Linked DNA regions of Homo sapiens. The protein of the gene in region 1 purifies or fractionates together with the protein of each later gene. This does not show direct contact. Each region holds a gene or a part of one and is shown in the gene's direction. Other genes may lie near its edges.

Region 1 (3,500 bases):
CTCCCTGTCCTCTGCTGCAGCCACGGTGGCCTCTGTTCCTCAGGCATGCTTCTGCCTCCGGGCCTTTGCGTCTACTTTGGCATATCCCTAAGAGCTTTTCCTTAGATGGCACATGGCTGGCTCCCTCATCTCCTTCAGGCCTGTTGGCTACCCTGTGTGGAGTGTCAGCCTCTGACGCTCTCCCACCCCCACTCCCTGCCCCCCTTCTCTGCATCACTTTCTCTTCATCACCCCCTGACATGTCCCGTATTTGACTGACTTTGTCATCTCCCCCTCTGAAGCGTAAGCTCTACCAGTGCAGGGATGTAGCTTTTGTTTCCTGAGGTATATCCAGTGTCGAGGGCAGTGACTAGCATGCAATAGGTGCCCATTCTTGCTGAGCTAATGGAGATGATTTTGTAGCACTGGCGTTCTGCGAGTATATCATGTAGCCTGAAGGAGTCTGGATTCCTAGAGCATCACATATAAACACAAAAACATATTCCAGAGCCAAATGCAAGTGAAGTTTGGATTACCTCCAGCCTGCCTCCAGTTGAGAAATTGACAGTCACATGCAGAGGGCACTGTTAAATGTGGACATCCTGCCCTTCCAGCGGAGGCTGGGGTTTGAAGTGAACCTTAGGAGACGATGTGGATGTTGGCTCTCTCCTGGGAGCCCTCAGTCTCCAGCCTGGTTAGATTCATCCCAGTGTCTCTGGGAGTCCATCATGCATGGCACCTTGACAGAACTGGGCCCTTCCCAGGTGCTTGCACCAGTTCTGGGGAGGAGACTTGGCTGTGAGCATCCTTTAATTCCTTGTATAACCAATGAGTGTGAGGTGGGCCTTGCAGAGTCACTGAGCATTTCAGTGACGACACACTCACCAGGAAACAGAACATTTGTTTTGGGTGTGAACAGTGTGCTGGCTGCTCTGAAAAGAGGTAGATTTTGTGTTTAGTGGGCAAGAATGTTCCTTAGGGGGAGAAGGGAGAATTCTTTTTTTTTGAGAGGGAGTCTCGCTCTGTCTCCCAGGCTGGAGTGCAGTGGTGCATCTCAGCTCACTGCAAGCTCTGCCCTCAGGTTCATGCCATTCTCCTGCCTCACCCTCCTGCTGGACTACAGGCGCCCACCACCAAGCCCAGCTATTTTTTTGTATTTTTTTTAGTAGAGACGGGGTTTCACCATGTTAGCCAGGATGGTCTCGATCTCCTGACCTCGTGATCCACCTGCCTCGGCCTCCCAAAGTGCTGGGATTACAGGCTTGAGCCACCGAGCCTGGCCGGGAGAATTCTTATAGTTGGCATTACATTTTGTTTTCTCTTGGTCAGTCCTCATCGTGCTAGGAAGTGAGGGAGGGGTCAAGGTTCCTCTCCTGCCTCACCTCATGGTGATGTTCTTTTCTCAGAGGAATTTTGTGTGGCAGTCCACTAAGTAGGAGGAGCAATGGCTGAGGCAGGGTGGTCTGGTTGGGAAGAGGCAATACTACGTCCAGCCCCATCCTTTGTTTCTCCTCTTCTCTCCTGTTGATTTTAGGTGAAGAAGAGTAGATACTAGATTTCTAGCCCTTTCTAACGGGAATGTCTGACCTACTCATTTTACTTGGAAAGGTGAAAGACCCTTGTTCAAACCCAGGTGGTGTGTTTTTTTGAAGTTCTCATTCAGTGATTAAAGTGTGCAACTCAACTGCATTAAATTGGTTTTTAATTAAGTCTGATCCTGAATAGGAATTAGATGTAGCTTTAGTTTTATGAATACATTTTTATTTCCTTGGTAGTTCTAGGTATTTGTAGTAATTAGAAAGGAAAGTCTTAATTTTCAGAATAGTAATCACAGTGATTGAGGGGAGGAAGGAGTCAATGCTGAAGAATAAATGAATTATTGAGACTCTTAATGAAAAAAGTCTTATTGGTAATGTGTCAAAGGACTCTTAAAAGGTCAACTTTAGCCACTGCTCTGAAGCTAAGTTAGTCTTTTCCATCTTAAGTCATATCCCTCTTAAGTTGGAAGATCTGGAGACTTATTCTGTACAGTTTGATTTTAAAAAGACTGCAGGTGGGCCGGGCATGGTGGCTCAGCCTGTAGTCCCAGCACTTTGGGAGGCTAAGGCGGGCAGATCACCTGAGGTCAGGAGGTCGAGACCAGCCTGGCCAACATGGTGAAACCCTGTCTCTACTAAAAATACAAAAACTAGCTGGACATGGTGGCACATGCCTGTAATCGCAGCTACTTGGGAGGCTGAGGCAGGAGAATCAATTGAACCCGGGAGGCGGAGGTTGCAGTGAGCCGGGATCGTACCACTGCACTCCAGCCTGGGCGACAAAGTGAGACTCCATCACAAAAAAAAGAAAAAAGAAAGACTTCAGGACAGCAAGGTGGCATGGCCACAGGACTATAAAGGGCTGTGGGTCCCACTGAGTCACTGCCCTGTCAGGTCAGGAGGTGACTGCCTGCCTTGACCCTGGCCTCAGTTACTTCCTGTCTGTGAAGGGAGCGATCCTGTGTGGGTGTGAGCACTGGGAAGTGGCAGTAGTAACAGGGCTCCATAACAGATTCTTCAGGCCTTAAAGATGCTCCTCCTCCAGGATCTGTGGGGCGCGTTTTCCAAGGAAATATGACACACATTTTAAACTCTTTATTAAAGTAAAATATATACAGAAAAATGCACTATCACGAGTCTACGCAATAAGTATCCACAAGCTAAACATGCCTGTTTAACCAGCAGATCAAGAAATAGATTATTCCTGACCTCCCCAACCTCCTTCTGTGCCCCTCTTCCAGCTGCTGCCCATCGTGGGCAGGGAATACCTGCTCTCTTCTTAATAATACCAGTGATTGATTTTGCTTGTGTTTGAACTTGATGTAAATGGACTCAAACGGCATATGCTCTTTTGTGTCTTTCACTCAACGTTACGTGTAAGACTTGTCAGGTTGTTGGGGTAATTGTAGTTTGTTCATTCTCACTATTCCAGCATGTGAATATATGAGTTTATTCACATTACTGTAGGTGGGTACTTGGAGAGTTTCCAGTTTGGGGCTATTAATGCCGCAGACTTTTGGTGAATGTCTATACACATTTCCATTGGGTCTGTATACCTAGGAGTAGAATTGCAGGACCAGAAGGAGGTAGGTGCTCGGCTTTAAAAGAAAGTGCCAGACTTTTTGTCTGAAGTGCTTGTTCTAATTTATACTCCCACCAACAGTATATGAATGAGACCTTGGAATATATTATAAAGTGGCTGATTCTAAAAGGGAACCAAAATGAATTTTGAGTTACCGTTGATAATAAATAAGAAATGACTCACTCAGGCTGAAGTTCTCCGCTGTCACAGAGAGAGGATGTTAGGCTGGCAGAATTCGTTAATCAAAGGTGGGCCTTGGGAAAAGGGCTTGTGAGGGTCAGATTTTATTGCTGATGAGCAGGTGATATTTCCTAATATAAACCTGAGTGGAAATGCAGCTCTTCTCCAAGGAGTTAATGGAAGGGAATTCAACGAAGCTCATATCTTGAGATTGAATTCTT
Region 2 (3,500 bases), 96 kb from region 1:
AAGTAATCTCTAATTGAAGGTGTGAAAAGACTGAGAACGTCTGTTGCAGCACGGCATAGATGAGTGCTTGAAAGATAGAAACTTAAGTTCATTCTACACCTGGAAGGTCATTTGTCATTGTGTTTGTGCTTTTGGATCACATCAAAGGAAGATTGTTTACTCCTTTGAACATTTTTACATTACTTCATAGGTTGTTATTTCTGTTTGCCTTCTCACAGGAAAGCAAGGATGAATTTCCTACCCTTGTTTCTATCTTGGCTTGCTTTCAGAAAATAGCTTGTAAATGTAATTAGTGTTTATTTTAAAATGGTTTCACAACTTTTCTGTTGCTATTTTCATGTACAGGTGGAGCATCCCTAATCTAAAAATCCAAAATTCTCTAAAATCCCAAACTTTTTGAACACCAACATATGGAAAATTCTACATCTCACCTCATGCGACAAGTCAAAATGCAGACAAAACTTTCACACATAGAATTATTTAAAATATCATATAAAATAATTTTCAGGCTATGGGTATAAAGTGTATATGAAACACAAATGAATTTTGTGTTTGGACTTGGGTCCTATTCCCAAGCTATCTCATTATGTATATGCAAATATTCCAAAATTTGAAAATATCTGAAATCAAATGCTTGGTACCGGAAGGTACTTAACCTGTAGTAATAGAACTAACACTAAAGCACAGCACAGGCAAATACAGGTAAGGCTTCTCCAACTTGCCCTGGAGCAATCTTTGAAGTCAGTTGTTGAAGCTCAGGAGTTTTGAGGAATTCTCAAATCATTGTAAGAATCTGCAGCCTGACCAACATGGAGAAACCCCATCTCTACTAAAAATACAAAATTAGCCAGGCATGGTGGCAGGTGCATGTAGTCCCAGCTACTTGAGAGGTTGAGGCGGGAGAATTGCTTGAACCTGGGAGGCGGAGGTTGTGGTGAACCGAGATCACGCCACTGCACTCCAGCCTGGGCAACAAAGCAAGACCCTGTCTCAAAAAAAAAAAATCTTTAGAGGAATACTCTAGTTATAAGAATATTTCATCTTTAGGCCAGTGTTGTCAAATGGAAAGAAAATACAAGCTATGTATATACTTTTAACTTTTCTAGTAATATTTTAATATACTTTTAACTTTTCTAGTAATATTTTTAAAAATTGAGAAATTTTACATATAAATTGTTTGAAATCCAGTATATATTTTACACTGAAAGCACGTGTCAATTCAGGTGCTAAATTTTCATTGGAAATACTTGATCTGTATTTAGATATGATAAAATTTACATTTGAAAAAGTAGATTCATATACTCAAGTTGCTCCAGACCTACTTACAAGTTTTCCAGTAATGGATAAGAATAAATTTTTAGAATTTAAGTTAATTAAAATTAAATGAAAATACAGTTCCTCAGTCACACTAGCCACATTTAAAGGACTCGTTAAGTCACATGTGGCTAGTGGCCACTTTATTGGACCAACCTAAGACTTTGTGAGTTGGCCTACTTAATTTGTAATGGGAAGTTGGTGTGTGTACCAACTAAATTCTCTGCATTTCTGCACATGTCCAAGAAACGATGCTGAGATAGCATATGAATTTCTTTATAGGACTTAAGATGTTTTATGAAACTAGACTATTGAGCTCTTTTAAGATGGGGATCGTACATTCCAGTAGCAAGATACCACTCTCATAGTAGGCCCACATAGATGTTACTGAATGAACATGAATGAGTGAATGGGAGAGGGTATTCTTAATTATGACAAAGGACAGGTTCCCATGGAGGTGGAGTCCTTTAATTTTTATACCTTCTATTCCCACATACCTTTTTTAATGTAATGGAAATTGGGTTTTAAGTATTGAATTAATTGAATAGTACCTCCCCTTTGTATACTGCATGATAATTTACTTTGAGTCTTACAAGTAAAAATCCTTCAAGATAGTTAAGGCAGTTATTAGAGTAATACCTTTAAAGTGATTGTGGCATATTGAAAGTCCTCAATAAATGCCAGTTTCCTTTCTTTCCTTAAAAATGAAACCGTGGAATTTCATGCTCATTGAGGCATCCTGAACCATAGAAAAGCGCTCAAAAGCCTAACAAATGAAAGAGCAAGAAGTGGCCGGGCGTGGTGGCTCACGCCTGTTATCCCAGCACTTCGGGAGGCCAAGGTGGGTGGGTCGCTTGAGGTCGGGAGTTCGAAACCAGCCTGACCAATGTGCTGAAACCCCCTCCTCTGCTAAAAATACAAAATTAGCCGGGTGTGGTGGCTCATGCCTGTAATCCCAGCTACTTGGGAGGCTGAGGCAGGAGAATCACTTGGACTTGGGAGGTGCAGGTGGCAGTGAGCCAAGATCCCACCATTGCACTCCAGCCTGGACAACAAGAGCGAAATTCCATCTCAAAAAAAAAAAAAAAAAAAAGCAAGAAGTAATGCTGTCTTACATTAACTTATAAGTATTTACCTTATCTCATTCAACCCTTATAGCAGTTCATTGAGATAGATATTATTTGTGTTAAACTGTACTGCCACATTAAAAGCATGTGCTCAGTGTCTGGCTGCTGGGTTTTTTTAAATCTTGACTCTGCCACTTGCACTAACTGTATGACCTTTGGTAAGTTCCTGACACATTCTGTGCCTCAATTTCACCATTCTTCCAAGTGGGAATAATAATAGTACCTACCACCACAACAGTATGAATGATGCATGTAACTAGTTTAAAGCAGTGGCACAGGCCAGGTGTGGAGGCTCATGCCTGTAATCCTAGCACATTGGGAGGCCAAAGCAGGCAGATCGCTTGAGCTTACGAGTTCGAGACCGGCCTGAGCAACATGACAAAACCCAGTCTCTACATAAAATACCAAAAAAAAAAGGAAAGCTAGGTGTGGCAGCGCATGCCTGTGGTCCCAGCTACTTGGGAGGCTGAGGTGAGAGGATTGCTTGAGCCCAGGAGCTTCAGGCTGCAGTGAACCAAGGTTGCACCACTGCACCTCAGCCTGGACGACAGAGCAAGACCCTGATCCCCCCAAAAAAAGCAGTGGCAGGTAGTAAAGTGCTTATCAGTTTATCAGTGTTAGCTAAAATAAATGGTGGCAAGCTTAGATCTAATTAGGTAAATAGTCTTTTGTTATTACTTGCTATCCAAGTGGAAGAAGCCAGAATCATTTATTTAACTCATTAAAAAGGGATTCCTGCCTGACTAATCAAAAGGCAGTTTATCCTTCAAGGGCCAGCTCTAGGAAGACCTGCCTGACATGACACCTCCCTTTTGTCATCATGTCTCATACAGAATCACTCATTTCCTGGGCTGTCAATGCATGGAGAGCTTGCTGCTGGTGCAGCATTAATCATATATAGGATTCTTTCTTATATCTGTTATCTCTACCCAACTGGATATATCTTTAGAATAGTTCAAAGTTTTGTTCATCTTTATATCCTGTATTCATCTTTATATTCTGATGACACCAGTGTGTGCCTCAGTAGTTGTAGAGCAAATGAAAAGAGTTGGAGGAGTG

The links. The genes of interacting proteins can lie anywhere in the genome.
Region 2: the proteins of RRBP1 (region 1) and DSTN purify together in Homo sapiens (affinity purification with mass spectrometry, with the first as the bait; one large-scale study listed by BioGRID). This does not show direct contact.

The regions. Positions count from the first base shown.
Region 1 is NC_000020.11:17,672,243-17,675,742, reverse strand, and holds part of RRBP1 (ribosome-binding protein 1), read left to right. Parts: intron 1-3,500. UniProt on the Homo sapiens protein: Acts as a ribosome receptor and mediates interaction between the ribosome and the endoplasmic reticulum membrane.
Region 2 is NC_000020.11:17,576,575-17,580,074, forward strand, and holds part of DSTN (destrin), read left to right. Parts: intron 1-3,500. UniProt on the Homo sapiens protein: Actin-depolymerizing protein. Severs actin filaments (F-actin) and binds to actin monomers (G-actin). Acts in a pH-independent manner.